2 linked regions of the Homo sapiens genome follow. The protein of the gene in region 1 interacts with the protein of each later gene in a biochemical or structural test. Each region holds a gene or a part of one and is shown in the gene's direction. Other genes may lie near its edges.

Evidence for each region.
Region 2: the proteins of RP9 (region 1) and U2AF1 form a complex in vitro, tested with the Homo sapiens proteins (one study listed by BioGRID).

The regions. Positions count from the first base shown.
Region 1 is NC_000007.14:33,106,230-33,114,827, reverse strand, and holds the start of RP9 (retinitis pigmentosa 9 protein), read left to right. Parts: upstream 1-5,423; 5' UTR 5,424-5,455; coding exon 5,456-5,607; intron 5,608-8,598. UniProt on the Homo sapiens protein: Is thought to be a target protein for the PIM1 kinase. May play some roles in B-cell proliferation in association with PIM1.
Region 2 is NC_000021.9:43,096,973-43,104,875, reverse strand, and holds part of U2AF1 (splicing factor U2AF 35 kDa subunit), read left to right. Parts: intron 1-473; coding exon 474-561; intron 562-3,443; coding exon of another isoform or gene 3,444-3,510; intron 3,511-4,356; coding exon 4,357-4,423; intron 4,424-7,903. UniProt on the Homo sapiens protein: Plays a critical role in both constitutive and enhancer-dependent splicing by mediating protein-protein interactions and protein-RNA interactions required for accurate 3'-splice site selection. Recruits U2 snRNP to the branch point.

The DNA.
Region 1 (8,598 bases):
GAAAAAAAGCGGGGAAGGCTCTCTTCAACCAAATTCCAAATAAAACACCATTTGACCAAAGTCAGAAGTCTGGTCAAAGAGAGACTCACCAAAGGGAAAAGAGGCAGCTTAGGGAAGCAGGAGGCTCCAGGGGTTCGAGTGTAGGCACATCTCATCATAGTCCAGAGGCTGGGATTTTCCCCAAGGCAAGGCAGCTTTGGATCCATGCTTCTGACACCAAGTATGTTTAAGTCAAATATTATAGACAGATGAATCTCTAAGGTTAAAACGTTTTATTAGGGAAGCAATAATCACAATTCGGGGCATACACATAGACCAGGTGGTCTTTGGTATGTGAGATGAACAAAGAGAAGGTTGAAAGTTTTATCAGAAAGAGAAATGTTGACCAGGCATGGTGTCTCATGCATGTAATCCCAGAACTTTGGGAGGCTGAGGCGGGCAGATCACGAGGTCAGGAGATCCAGACCACCCTGGCTAATACGGTGAAACCCCGTCCCTACTAAAAACACAGAAAATGAGCCGGGCTTGGTAGCGGGTCGCCTGTAGTCCCAGCTACTCGGGAGGCTGAGGCAGGAGAATGGCGTGAACCTGGGAGGCAGAGCTTGCAGTGAGCCGAGATTGCGCCACTGCACTCCAGCCTGGGCAACAGAGCAAGACTCCATCTCAAAAAAATAAAAATAAATAAATAATTAAAAAATAAATAAATAAGAAAGAAAGACAAATGTTATGTAGTGTTTTGAAAGAAATCTCAGGCCGGGCGTGGTGGCTCACATCTGTAATCCCAGCACTTTGGGAGCCTGAGGCAGGCGGATCACGAGGTCAGGAGTTCAAGACCAGCCTGGCCAACATGGTAAAACCCCATCTCTACAAAAAACACAAAAATTAGCTGGGCATGGTGACACGCGCCTGTAGTCCCAGCTACTCGGGAGGCTGGGGCAAGAGAATCACTTTAACCCAAGAGGCAGAGGTTGCAGTGAGCCAAGATTGCGCCACTGCACTCCAGCCTGGTGACAGAGTGAGACTCTGTCAAAAAAAGGAAAGGAAGGAAAGAAAGGAGAGAGAAAGGGAGGGAGAGAGGGAGAGAAGGAGGGAGGCAGGAAGGAAGGAAGGAAGGAAGCTCATTGGCACTAAACAAGCTTTTGGGAGCCGGCAAGCTCTGATAGACGAGTGACTGCAGCAGTTAAAACCAGTCGCAGAGCCAGGGCAGGCCGTTTCAGCAGCTACCAGGTAAAACTGATCTTAGAGTTACAGCAGTCCATTTTAGCGGCTGGGCTTCTGGAAAATTTAATTCTTGGAGCAGGTCCTGTGACCACAAGTGCTTTTCCCCCCTGACCCCTTGATTCTCTTTTACTTGAGTATGACAAAAATTACCCAATTTGTATAACTAACTTTCACACAAACGTGAGACAGGGACTAGAAGGAATGAAAGGTTATCGGAATAAGAAAAAGAGGGGAAATGAGAGAGAAAGATGGCAGGGAGAGAAAAACAAGATAACAATCAGTGAGAGAATGCAGAGGCAGGGACCAGAAAATGTGGTAAAATCAGACAGAAGGACACAATGAGAGGAACAGCAAAATCTGAGGCCAAGGTGGGCATGGGAAGCAGCATGGAAGAGCGGGGAGAAAGGGATCTGAAAAAAGGACTGGTCTGAATCAAAGTCAGTAAACCAGGTTCTGTCAAATGCCCCTCAGACAGTACAGGAACCTCAAGTGTTAATGGTAAAATCCAACGTAATCCACTAAGGCCAGGCCCTAAAAAAAAGGTTTCCACCTTTCATTGAGTCTGAAATAAAGGCAGTTTTGTGAATCAGAAAACTACTGTGGTTTTGAGAACAGTAAACCCTGGAGGCTAAGCTATGCCAGTTGTTAACTTTTGCTTGGCACACACAGGATGGCTAAAGAAATGACCAGCCTTAGTCAGATCAGTTGAGGTCAGGAGTTCGAGACTAGCCTGGCCAACATGGTGAAACCCCGTCTCTGCTAAAAATACAAAAATTAGCCCAGCGTGGTGGCGCACGCCTGTGGTCCCAGCTACCTGAAAGGCTGAGACACGAGAGTCCCTTGAACCTGGGAGGCGGAGGTTGCAGTGAGCAGAGATCGTACCACTGCACTCCAGCCTGGCCAATAGAGTGAGACCCTGTCTCAAAAAAATGAAGGGAAGGGGAGGGGAGGGGAGGGAAAAGGCCAGCTGAGGAAAAATACCTCCTCACCCCCATCAACATAGCAGGGCCCCATCTGTATTGTTTTTAATTATTAAATAAATAAATTGAATGAAAAAACATCCCCAAAAGTCCATCTGAGCCGATTTGAGGCCAATGGGACATCAGGGAAATTTGTTTCCAGCAGCTTCCTATCCTCTTCTTTACCAAGAGATTCTCCAAGGGTTTCCAAGAGATTCTCCCACTCCCACTATTCCCACACACCTAAATTCATGAGGGTTGATGAAAAACTCTGGACTAGAAATCAGACCATTTTGGTTGCAGGGCCACACTCTCCTTCTGAGCCTCAATTTCCTTATCTTACATTGTCTTGCATGCCCCCATAGGGTTTCTGTAAAATCAACTGGGAGAACATATGGGGGCAGGGGGAGATCTGCATGGCACTATATAAATGTAAAGAATCATATTTATCTGTGAGTAATAGAAGACCCAACTCAAAATCACTTCAATAATAAAGAAATGTACTATCTCCCAGAATGAGAAGTATGGATAGGTAGCAACACCAGGACTGGTTGATCAAATGTCTCTATCACATCCCCAAGGACCCAGGGGTCTCCTTCTGTCCTCTGCCATCCTCTGGGGGTTGCAGGCAACAACATCTGGAGGCAGAAAGGGGATCTTTGACACTCCCAAGCATCATTTATTAAGAGCAAAGACAACCTTACCCTGAAAGCCACCTCCATCCGACCTCTCCTCATACCTCATTGGCTAAAATTGCACCACAGGTCCATTGCTAAAACAATCAGTGGAAACGAGAACAAAATTACTAATGACTGGCTTAAGACAAGTCAAGACTCACCTCTAGAGAGGCATGAAGAGGCCTCCACTCTCTAACCAGCTTCCTGTATGATTCCTGAACAAAATCAAAGCTGGTAGCAAGGAAGAGAAGGAGAAATGTCAACTCAGTTGCCAAATATTTGCCCCAGAATACCAATTAAGTTTGGTGTCTGACCTTCCTCCCTCAGTCTTTCGTACCTGCAAGCCTAAAGTAAAGCACGTTGCAATTTTCCCTCCGATCCTACTGGTTAGCAACTATTGATGGATAGAAATAATTTTTCTTTTTTTGAGACAGGGGCTCACTCTGTCACTCAGGCTGGAGTGCAGTGACACGATCATGGCTCACTGTAGCCTCCACCTCCTGGGTTCATGCAATCCTCCCACCTAAGCTCCACAAATACCTAGGACAACAGGCACAAGCCACCATGCCTGGCCCTAGAAGTAATTTTAACAGCTGTTTTTAGTGCATGACCAAAGGGATTCTCATGTTTCTACTGCGCTGCAGAAGACCATAGACATGCACGCCTGAGGGTCCACTTCACCATGAGAGTTCCTTGAAGACTTGTATTTTGGGTAGGAAAAAAAGAAAGATTTTGCATTGTACTCTCTAATCTAGCCATGTGATCTTTCCCTTCTCCTACTTTTTTCCTCTCCTCATCTCCCCAGTGGGGAAAGGTCACTGGTAAGATAAGAGCTTGTAAAAATACACCTTAGCAGCAAAACAATGGTGTCAAGATTACACTGTGAAGGGTGATCAATACAAGCAGGAGAAAATCTATTCTTTTTTTAGTTGCTCCATTCTGAAAGGTTTAAAACCTGTCCAGTAGCACAGACTAAGGACCAACTGCAGCTGCCCCACCAGTGGGCCAACACCAAGGCTGCTTGACTGGCCTCAAGAATGAATCTCTGGTGTCTTAGGAGGGGGCAGAAGAATAAAATGAAAAACAGAGGGGTTCATGGACAGGAGGGTACAACAGAAAGAAAGCACAAAGAGAAGTCAGAGAATATCAAATCACAAAATAATTTCATAGTCAGGTGCAGTGATTCCCACCTGTAATCCCAGTGTTTTGGGAGGCTATGGCAGGAGGATTGCTTGAGGCCAGGAGTTCAAGGCCAGCCTAAGCAGCATAGCGAGACCCCGTCTCTACAAAATAAAAAACTTTAAAAAGTTAAAAAGAATTTTGGAAAGAGCAGTATCACATAGAAAATTAATGAGACTGTATCATCGAGGAGAGCCATGTCCTAAAAGAAAAAAAAAAAAGCTATTCATCATGATGCAAGACTTCAAAATATGTTAATCATCATAAAAGTTGGGCAGTTCATGTGGACAATCGCCATGCAATTGCCCATAATCTATCCCTGCAATACACTTTTTCTATGTTGAATTTTCTTTTTAGTTTGCTTTCGTTTTTCTATTTTCTCTTTTAGCTTTTTCATTATTGTAAATTGTCAGCATTATGTTTTACAATTCACTATGCTATGTATTACATCTTAACATCATTTCTAATACTGGAGGCATCAACTATATAAAGACTTTTAGAGAGTTCAAATTTGTTTTATGCATTTTTTGCAAATATGACTCAATCAAAGCTCATTATTACAATGGTGACTGTGTAAGCATTCTACATATATGCAAAAATGTAGAAATTTCCTCGATAAATAAATAAGTGTCTTTTCTGTACATCTGCATTTGTGAAAGATGAAATTTCTCAGGATCTTGGCTCCTCGGGTGACTGGCACAGTGGTGACGTCATGGTGACCCATCCTGTCAAAAGAGTTAGGTTGTCTCTCATGGTATATCAGATGACCGCAGTTATAAAGCTGGGTGCACACTATTACCGAACATAATTATATGTTTATACATTTCACTTTTTGAACACTTTTTTTTTTTTTTTTCTGAGAGACAATCTCGCTTTTTCGCCCAGACTGGAGTGCAGGGGCACCATCTCGGCTCACTGCAACCTCTGCCTCCTGGGTTCAAGCAATTCTCCTGCCTCAGCCACCCAAGTAGCTGGGACTACTGGCGCCCGCCACCACGCCTGGCTAATTTGAACATTTTTTTATGAATACATTTCATCTGCTCATCCCTATGTGACTGTTGCTAGTATACCTGAGGTGGGTGTGGCCGGGCGGGAACCTCCAGGCTCCCAACTAGCGCCTCGCCCCGCTTCGGCTCCAGCTAGGCGGCGCTCCCCACCCACCCGCAGCAGCCCGCCTGGCGGCTGGGCCCGAGACCCGGAGCCCCTGACTTGGGGCCCGACGCGGGGAGGCGGGGATCGGGTGGCCGAGGCTGAGACTTCGGGGCCGCCGGGGTGAGTTGCGGGGCGGCGGCGGGAGGGGGCGCTGCGAAGCCCCGCGACCGCCGCGCGGAGGAAGTGCTCTCTTGGCTGCCGCCGCCGCCGCCGCCGCCGCCGGAGCCGCGCCGCGGGGGTTGCCCGAGCGGCGCTGCGGGGGCTGACATGTCGTCCCGGCCTGGGCGCGAGGACGTGGGGGCTGCGGGCGCGCGGCGGCCGCGTGAGCCGCCGGAGCAGGAGCTGCAGCGACGTCGGGAGCAGAAGCGGCGGCGACACGACGCGCAGCAGCTGCAGCAGCTCAAGCACCTGGAGTCCTTGTGAGTCCCGAGCTGCCGTCCGCGCGCGGCCAGTCTTCTGAAGCCAGGGGCCCGGGGCGCGGGACGCCGCGGTGGGCGCTAGGCCGGGTCCTCCGAGCCCCCGCGAGCAGGCAGGGGGGCTGGGCCCGGCAGGAGCCTGGTGCGGGCGACCGATGTCGGGCGCCGCGGTCAAGGACTTGAAGTCCATCCTCCTGGCGGGGCGTTCAGGGAGCCAACTGCCGCTCGGCACCAAGCAGAATCTGACTTGGGAGGCCCTGCGCTTCCCTAGCTCCAGGGGGTTCCAGGAGAGTCCAAATGACCCGGGAGAGTGTGGTGTAAAGAAGATTCAAATGTAGGGGAAGGAAATATGGTTTCCCTCTACCCTTCTAAGTTCTTAAGCTGGGCCACAAATTAAATTGTCATAAGACAGATTAACAGGAGAAAAACTTTTAATTATGTACCCGTGCACTAGAGGGCCACAAAAGTGGGAGACAAAGAAGGGCCAGGGAATAGGGGCGTGGGCCTTTTGGGGCGTGGTGGAGACCTTTTGGAAGGGTGATGGGGGAAATGTATGGTGAATAAAGGTTGCTTTGTTATCCCGATGAGGCGCTCAGGCGATAAAAGTTGCCCCCAAGCAGCTGTCTTCCTGATACAGATACATTTACTACAGAAAATTTCCTTTATAGGTGTAAATTTCTGTTTACAACAGGCGAGTCGAAAAATAATAAGAACAAAAGGAAAAAAAGCAGTCATACTTTATTTTAGGCAGTTGAGGGGTAGCTGAATAAGTTATCCTGTGTTGTTTGGTTCTGTTACTTATAGCTCAAAGTCATCAATATGCCAGGGTGGCATGTTTGGGGATGGTGCATTCTTGTCTTTTGCAGTCATTTATCAGGGTGGCGTTTCCTAAATTCTAACACAGACCTCGAGTGGAAAGTTCAGGCAGCAACTCTTTCAGTTCTTGTCCGTGATTCTATAATTAGCTGCATAAAACAACCTTTTCTAAGTGTGGCATTCACTCAGTTATTCAAGAATTCGTTTCTGTTTTAGCCACTTCTAGTTACCTGTGCTAAGTAGGTGTTAAGTATAGCCTAACGCTGCCTCCTTGAATATTTTAAGTTTAGCCTAAAAGTTTCTCTGTACTTAGTGAACTGTAACCTAAGTAGATGTGTAAACAGACTGTAACCTACTGTTATAAGTACCTGAGTCTCAGACAATCACAGCAGCTGATTTTCAGGCCGTCACAGGTGGTCAGCCTTTGAAACCCTGTTCAAAGAAGGCAAACGCCAGGCTGTATGGAATCCAGCTATTTCTCTACCTCATTTGCTTTTCTGTACATCACTTTCCTTTTCCTGTCCATAAATGTTATCCCACCAGGTGGCAGCCTGAGAATTGCTCTGGACCTATTCTGGTTATGGGGGTGCCCTCTTTGAAAACAGTTCTTTGCTCAAGTAGAGTTTAATTTGTCTACTTTTAAAAAACATAATTCATATAAGAAAAGTTCCTCAAAGAATTAAAATCCTTTTTATAATTAACCTTCTGGGAGGTTTGATGTGAGATAAATTCCTATGTTGGGACCTGGCCTGCTCTTTTTCCAGTGTGGCCCGCTCTGAACGACTTTTCCCCTTAGCAGGGCAGGGGATGCAGGATAGAGACCCTGCATTGTGGGCATCCATGTTACAGGGCAGTCCTGGCCCTTTCAAGTCACTGTGTGGCGCTCTTGGTCTCCCAGGGAAGTCAGGTGTTCAAAGATCTTCCCCTAGCGTAAGCATCAGAATGCCTGGCCCTGCCCAGCCCTCAATATATTTAGCTATAGAATGCTAGAGGATGGTTAATTCCACTTATTTGTAGCTCAGAGAGCTTTTTCACAGATGAGAGAGATTATAACCTACTTTTACAGATGAAAAAATGGAGGAACAGTGGTTAAGTCATGTGATCAAGCATACATTGACCAGTTAGTTAACCAGCAAATCTAGAGCTGAACCCAGGTGTCTGATTGACTGGTGGGATTTTTCCAGTTTCTGAGATTTAAAACTGAATGAGCCGTTGAGACATTTGCTTTGGCCAGTTCAGAATCTTGTTTGAGCTTTAAATTGTATTTATACCACAGTAATATGTAGTTTTAAAATTCAAATAGTACTAAAAGTGCTACCAAAAAATAGCAATAGGCTGCCCAACTCCTCAGTAACCACTCATATTCCCTGTGTCCCTCTTCCCCCTCCCAAACCAGGCTTCTCTGTGTAAACTTTTAGGTTTTACTTCTGGGATTTAACTGTTTGGTTTTTGTTTTTTTTTTTTGAGATGGAGTCTCGCTCTGTCACCCAGGCTGGAGTGCAGTGGTGCAATCTTGGCTCACTGCAGCCTCCACTTCCTGGGTTCAAGCGATTCTCCTGTCTCTGCCTCCCAAGTACCTGGGACTACAGGTGTGCATCACCATGCCCAGCTAATTTTTATATTTTTAGTAGAGATGGGGCTTCACCATGTTGGCCAGGATGGTCTCGATCTCTTGACATAGTGGTCTGCCCACCTCAGCCTCCCAAAGTGCTGGGATTATAGGCGTGAGCCGCTGCGCCCACCAACTGTATATTCCTAAATTGTATATTTATACTGTTTACATCAATTCAACATCTTAGACATACCTCTTAACTTCTTGTCACAGTAAGGATTTAGTTCTTTACCTACCCTTCTTGTTTCCAATCTTCCAGTATAGTTCCATCATAGCAATTTTTGCTAAACGAATGCTTAGTATTAACATTATTATAACTAGGCTGGGCTCTGTGGCTCACGCCTATAATCCCAGCATTTTGGGAGGTAGAGGTGGGAAGATCGCTTGAGGCCAGAAGTTCTAGACCAGCCTGGGCAGCATTTATAGACCTTATCTCTGCAAGAAAGAAGGAAAAAAGAAATTAACCAGGCATGGTGGTACATGCCTGTGGTTCCAGCTACTTGGGAGGCTGAAGTGGGAAGATCTGCTTGAGCCTGGGAGGTTGAGGCTGCAGTAAGCCATGGCTG
Region 2 (7,903 bases), on another chromosome or scaffold:
CAGATGACATCTGAGAGCTAGGGTGACTTGCCCAAGCCCAAGCAGCTGGTAGCAGAGTTGGGATCTTAACCCTCACCACACCGGTGTTTTCAAGAGAGAACTTGGTCGTGGAGAACTGGAGAACAGATACTGCCTAAGTTACATTTAGTTTTAGACTAATTTAATACTCCATTTAAGAAACAAACAGAACAGCTGTGCAGTTAGGAAAGTGGAGGGGATTTGAATGAGGAGGAGGCGGGTTAGAGTTAGAACCGTCTTTGCTGAACAAGTAGTGTGTTTGCAGAAAGGGAAGTTGAAGTTACGTTGTCCTAAAATACAGCAAGGAAGAGGAGGTGCTTAATACCACGGAAAAAAGTCTGTGTCATGTTTCTGTGAGGTTAAAAGTAATTTGATAGTGTATGTCATGCTGCTGACATATTCCATGTGTTTGATATCTTCCCAGCAAAATAATCAGCTCTCATTTTCCCTTACAGAGTCAACTGTTCATTTTATTTCAAAATTGGAGCATGTCGTCATGGAGACAGGTGCTCTCGGTTGCACAATAAACCGACGTTTAGCCAGGTTTGTTTGCCTTTTTTTCATGTAAATTATAAAAACTTCATGTTCTTTTCAAAGACAGTTAATTTCTACATATTAAGCAAGTCATTTTTTCTCTCGTAGTTGTATTTTCCATTTGTGTTCATAAGTGTGTTCTTTTATTTAAATAATAGTGAGGCAGGTGATCGACTTCCAGTGGAAGGTCTGAGACCACCACTCCTTGTTTTTATCATTAGAGAAACTTTAAAAATCAGTTTTTGATGTTTGTGTGTTGGCTGTGCCTGATATTTGCTGCCCTGCCATCTTCCCTACCCCCTCTGATAGACATGGGTCCAGAGGGGGTGGCCGTGCCAGCCTTGGGTTAGCCTCCTCCAGGCACCAGTGGACACGGAGTGGGCTTTCTGCTCTTTGCTGTCTCCAGACAGTAGAGGTGATGGAGCCACCTTCCAAGTTAGCGTGATTGTCACCAGGCCCATCATGCTGCTCGAGCTTCTCTGGCTGCGTCCTCACTTTCACATCCCTAGCTGAGGAAACAGCGAGTCGCATCACGTCATGGAAACATGAAAAATTAAGCTGAAAGGTAGAAAATGGGCCGTAAATTGCTCTTAGCGGGTCTGTTTGGTTAATTGAGGAGTGCCTGTTATCTTGGGCTTAGATCCGCTCTGAGTTCAGTTCAATCAAAAGTTGTGAGTTTTGATAGTTTTATTTTTGGTTAGTTGAAGAAAAGGCAAAGGTTGGTACACTATAAAGGATCACTTACGGATTAAAGGGAGAAGGCACCTCTAATCGGAGCAGAAAACTTGTGCCCACGTTGATGAGAACATTTGAAATTTGAAAATCGATGCCCAAGTCTTTCCAGATGGAGGGCTGGGGAACTCCTTCCAACCCACCCTTGAAGTCTAAATGTGCAGCCTCTGAGCTGTTGAGTAGCTATTATGCGTGGTCCCTGGGAGCTGCCAGGCTCTGCCTTTGAGCTCACATCTGTCTGTATACGTTTTCCTGTAAGCATTTAAGAAAATCTACCACTTTGTGTAAGTGAGCTGGGAGAAGGAAACATGGGTTTTTTCCGGTTGAAGCCCATGGACGACCCCACAGCACACAGTGTTTTTAGAAGGGAAGAGGATGATGGCTTTTCCCTCCATTATGCTAATTACCAAGTGGTTAGTATAATAGCAGTCTGTCTTTTGATAGCTCTGAACATGAGTTTCTTTTTACAAATTTCAAAATCTTGGAGAACTAGCTTTACATTTTCTGTGTATTGCAATTGTTTTTTCTTTAATGTTTTGATTTATGAACCGAATCTCCCCTAACTAAACCAGTGGCCATGGATTGTGGTATAACCAAGCATCTTAAGTGACCACCCAGTTCTTTGATTTTGGGGGGTGTCCCAAGTGTTGGGCTGAGAGAAATCAACTGTTCCCTATTCTAAAAGTTTTCTTTAATCTGGCTGGAGGCACTTTCTTTATGTTTTTCTGGATCATAGATTACCTGAGAATGTGAAATGTGAAGTTAATTTAGGCATTCCAGGTCAGTGCTGGGGAGAGCCCATTGGAGCTCGATGGGGTCAGTAGTATGTGTCAGCTTAAGCATCCTAGTTTGATGCGTGGGTTTGTTTTGGTTGGTTTTAGGCAATCCTAGCCACCCTTGGCTTTCCCATTAGACTGCATTGCCTCTTTACGTTAAGCTTCCTTCATTAAATAGCCACTGCCAGAATACCTGAGTGAGACCAACTGAATTTTACTGTTGAATAATTGGGCTCAGTTTAGCTTTTCATCAGGGTTGTCATGGTACGGTCATTTCAGTTCAAAGCTGAGTCAAGTCAGCTTTGGGAAGCCTCCCAGGCCTGAGTTCAGTTGACTCAGGGCTGTACTTGGCGGCTTATGGAAGAAACGGGGCCCTGATGCAGGTCTGAGTGGTTCAGTGTGGACAGTTTGTCAGACCTCCCTCTTAGGTGGGGTGGGCTTCCCAGCTGCACACCTTTGACTGAGGAACTCTTCATACAACCACTCCCCTTTAAACAGAGCTAGAAATGGAGCTGGCTGGTTTTATAAAACCACCACTTACAAAACTGCTTCACGTGGATATTGTTGAGACTAAACATTTATTTTTCTAAATCATGCGAGTGATTGCTTTAGCTTGTAAATCTCTAGCATAATTCAGGGTGGGTTTCTTTATAAGCTGCTTACAGTGATATGGACGTTAAGATTCATGTAATATATTAGCCTACTAACTTAAACATGGTTTGTTTTTTCAGACAACTTGATTTTAAGAAGAACGGTACAGTGTAAGGTTTCAAGTCTGCCTGATCCAGTTTAAAGCACAAGGGCTAAAAGGATTTTTTTTCCTTAAAAGAAGGATCGGAAAAGAGCAAATGTTTTAAGCTATTGTATTATGTAAACAGAGATCCCACCAAGAAAGTGTAAATCAGAGCCGGGTGTCCATGACAGTTGACAGACCTGTTTGGTGTGCCTGTTTTGCTAGGAGACCAGAGAACTTGATGTACTGCAGACAGCTGAGTTACGCATTTGGTTTTGAAAAATTATCTTGTGTGAGGAATATGATTATAACGTGAATTTTTCCACATCTTGGTGTCTGCTAGCTTGAAGTACAAGAAAATATTAGTATTCTACTATTTATCTTGCATTAAAACACTTTAACATTGAAAACGTGGGACTAATCAAAACAATACAGTTTCTTCTTGGTTGCTGGCTGACTTGACCCAAGTCACTGCTCAAACTCTGTTTTCATAATATGATGGTTTTGGTGTACTCTTCAGAAGACAAATGTCTGACTTGCGGGAAAAAAACAAACGTTTAGCCATTTGCAAACAAATTGTCTCTTTGCAATTGTCTAATATATGCACAGCAGCCAGTAGAATTCCCCTTTTTATTTTTTTTTCCCCGCAGACCATCTTGATTCAAAACATCTATCGTAATCCCCAAAACAGTGCACAGACGGCTGACGGCTCACACTGTAAGTCCCACAGTTGGAGAAATTTTTTTAAAACAATGGTGTTAAAGAGCCCACTCTTAATTGAGACAAATAATGTTGGCTTCTGAGCTGCTGACATAGAGCTGTTGCAAACAGGACAAGGTGCTGGAACTCCTTGGCGCACACAGCAAGAACTTGATACTTGGCCACGTTCAGGAGGCTTATCCCTTCTAGGGAGGGTCACTGGCCCGGCCACCTCCATTGATTGACATTTGTCATGAGAGCAGGTCCGTCCATGTGAAACGGATTTCAACATTTTGAGCCATTCATTGGTCTTTACAGTGACTGAACCCCTGGCCTTTATTAAGTTCTTTGTGTAAAATTAAAACTCTTAGGAATATTAAGGAATCAATAAGGTAAGTTGCCCAGTAAGTGTGGGTTTTATTTCACCATTATAATTTTTCCTCCAGGAAGTGGAGATTTCATGATATGTAACAATTGTATTTCTCTAATACAGTAATTTTTTCCATCAGTTTATGTAAGCATTATTCTTTCCGAGTTCATTAAAAATTTTCTGCCACATCTAAGAACATTTTGGTGCTAGCCTGGCAAACTATTTGTGCTTTTACCTGAATTGGAATTTTGAAAAGGAGAGTTTTCACGTTCTGTAAGCAGAAGTACAAGATGGGCATATCATGAGACCTCCGTTACACCGCAGTGTTAGGGATTCAAGGCAGCCGCCAACTGAGAAAACGCCTCTGCTTCTCCAGAAAATAACTTGCTCTCTTTTCAGCACTGAATCTCAACTGAAGCACTTGCCAGAGGCAGCCGGTTAAGTGTTTACCTTTAATTTTCCATAATATAAAGTTGTTGCGTTTTGTATTTCAGACCATTGCCCTCTTGAACATTTACCGTAACCCTCAAAACTCTTCCCAGTCTGCTGACGGTTTGCGCTGTAAGTTCATACAAGTTCCTTCCCCGGTTCCCTGGGCTTGCGTGTCAGAGCTCAGTGTCCACTCCATCTGGTCTGCCGTGCTAGTGTCAAGGACCGCGTTTCACTAGAGGTGGCAAGGAGCTTTCGTCCCACTGACCCCATGGAAACCTCTTTTGGAGATTTGAACTCCCACCGTGTGTTAAAAGGGAAAAAGTAACTGGAAAGGGTGCCCTTTAAAACAGTCTAGAGCTGGGCCGGGCGCGGTGGCTCACGCCTGTAATCCCAGCACTTTGGGAGGCCGAGGCGGGTGGATCATGAGGTCAGGAGTTCAAGACCAATCTGGCCAACATGGTGAAACCCCATCTCTACTAAAGATACAAAAATTAGCTGGGCGTGGTGGCAGATGCCTGCAATCCCAGCTTCTAGGGAGGCTGAGGCAGAGAATCGCTTGAACCCGGGAGGCGGAGGTTGCAGTGAACTGAGATCGTGCCGCTGCACTCCAGCCTGGGCGACAGAGTGAGACTCCGTCTCCAAAAAAAAAAAAAAAAACAGTCTGGAGCTGCTGCTGCCCCTTCTTCCTTTACTTTGGCCGTCATCCTAGAGGGAATGTACTGGAATTAAACGTCGAGTCATATTCTTCCCTCTTAGAGCAACAAAATTTGAATGTTTCTCTCACTTTCTGGAATTTTTAAAAAGCAAACTTTTTAAGTTATTTTTTCAGATTTTATTTCTCATTAGCCTTTTTTCCTTGAACTCCATTTTGGAGTGCACCCTGTAGTTGTAAGAGCATTGTGCTGAGAGCGTTCCCCAAATGAGGGTCTGCAGCTTGCACTGACCCCTGAGTTCCTCACCCACCAGCCCCGTGCCGACCCGTCTAACCCGTGTGGGGGTGCTCCACTCAAATAGGCCCTTGGCAGAAAAGATTGTCCGTTCTGTCCACACACTGCCTGGATACAGTCTCCAGCTCTAGGAGATGGAATTGGTTTGCTCCATTTAGAAATAGATCAAAACTGGGCATTCAGTAGATGGTACCAATATCTTCCTGTACTGGGAAATACTAAATTTAGATTGTGAATATTTACCTAATGATAATTTTTAGAGAAGGAGATATCATAGATGAGTATGATTGGGAAGTTCAGAAAACTAAAATTTGATTTTTACAGCCATCCAACTATAGAATCATTAGAATTTAGTCATTTATGGATAAATTAAAATGAACACCTGGACTCTTGTTAAAATCAGAAAGTCCAAACCAAAGATAGGCACTTCCCATTCACCATTCTGTTTTAAAGCAGTAAAAATTGAGGTGCCCTTGGATATCCACAAGCCTAAATTGAGTACACCCTTGAACCAGAGCCCCTCAGTTAATGGGGTGACCGACATGGGGTAGCTGATCCCAGGGGGCATTCCCCTCTCGAGCTGGCCCTGCACTGGGTGGCCTGGGGATTGTGCTTCCTTGCACAGTGGTGCACATTTCTATGTGTGGATGAGATTTTCTTGTCAACTTTTCCTGCCAAGACACTAAATGCTTTTCAGTGCTAATACTGACCTGATAGTAGAGATTTCTTTCCCTGAGTCGGATGGTAGCAGGATTTACTTGGTAACCCTTGGTTTAAAATACCTGTTTTTTTGTTTGTTTGTTTTCTTTTGTTTTTTAAGGAAATAAGATCAATAGGCGGAGGGAAATTGTTTCTATATGCACTTATTAAATAATTTTTGTTAACAACCCTGCCCTGGGATAAAAGTGAATGGAAGTACATGACTGAGTAACAGTAATTAATTCTTTGCCCTGATCGTTTATTTGGGGACTGTATATGCTTTCTTGACTGACAATAGAATGTTGTATTAGTTTTCATTGTGTCTTTATTTGCAGTTCACAGCACTTTTGTTTTGCATATGCTACAAACTAAAAGTTTAGCAATTACGTTATATTCCAATTCTGGAGTCCAGATTGTACAAATTAGATGAAATTCTAATTCGTCATTTTAGGAAGAAATCAATTACCTAAAATTACTGGCTCTTTTCAACATACCCTTTAGTATGTAAAAAAATAAGCTTCAAATGCGTGGGTTAAAGTTAACTATCAATCCCAGTTTAAGAATGATATTTCTGTAAGAAAACTGCTTTATTTTCCAAGTTGTAGTATTTAACATAGGCTGAGTCACAAATAAGTTTTTAATTGTATCTTAATGCAGTTGTCTCTGCCTTTCAAGTCACTTTGATTGAAACATTTTAAGCAGAACAAATATAGCCAATAATTTAAAATAATCACCCCAAAACCATTTCTCAAACCTGCTAAAACTTTGAGCATGTGAATAATTTTCTCCTCTTCACATTCTTCTTATGTGGGAAGGAAGTGAATTTGAAATATTAAAATCTGCCCTTTGGAATAGGCTACTTTGGCCGTTTATAACTTGATTTCTACTCGGGGAGGAAGGTACATTCCCAATAGCTTTCCAATTGGGATATCCTGTGATATGATTGGCAGGCTGTCCGAGTAGTTACACTTAATAAAATTTGGGTTCGAAAGCAGATTCCTGGAAGTTCAAAAATAACTAAAACAGCCCCGGATAGGTTAGAAAGTGAACTTAAATCATTCTCAGAATTAGAAAATAAGAAGTTATTTTTTATCTTCAAAGATAAAAAGGGGGCCGGGCACGGTGGCTCACGCCTGTAATCCCAGCACTTTGGAAAGCCGAGGCAAGTGGATCACGAGGTCGAGAGATTGAGACCATCCTGGCCAACATGGTGGAACCCCGTCTCTACTAAAACTACAAAAATTAGCCAAGATCACGCCATTGCACTCCAGCCTGGAGACAGTGAGACGCCGTCTCAAAAAAAAAAAAAAAAAAGATAAAAAGAGTTTTGAGCAAGCTCAAAGACCCGTGTGCCAGCAGTCAGATGCCCACGTTGGGTGCACAGGCTAAGGCAGCCGGCCCAATCTGGAAACCAGTCAGGCTTTTGCCAGCCCCTAATCTAGCTGATTGGAACATGTTTGTTGATACACCAGCTCTGTGATTTCTCAGGTTTAGAGAACTCTAGAATTTGATAGAGTGGGCCGGGGGCAGTGGCTCATGCCTGTAATCTCAGCACTTTGGGAGGCTGAGGTAAGCAGATCACGTGAGGTCAGGAGGTTGAGACCAGCCTGGCCAACATGGTGAAACCCCGTCTCTACTAAAAATACAAAAATTAGCCAGGCATGGTGGTGCGCGCCTGTAGTCCCACCTACTTGGGAGGCTGAGGAAGGAGAATTGCTTGAACCTAGGAAGTGGAGGTTGCAGTGAGCCAAGATCACGCCACTGCACTCCAGCCTGGAGTGGACAGAGACTCCATCTCAAAAGAAAAAAAAATTAATTAAATTTGATAGAATGATGATGGGGATAGAGTGTAAATTTGCCAAATTTACCCACGCAACAGACATGATTTTACCTAATACATGTGAATTATGAAGAATAAACTGATGAAAATAGTTTGGGAATATAAAACTTAAGAATACTTGCG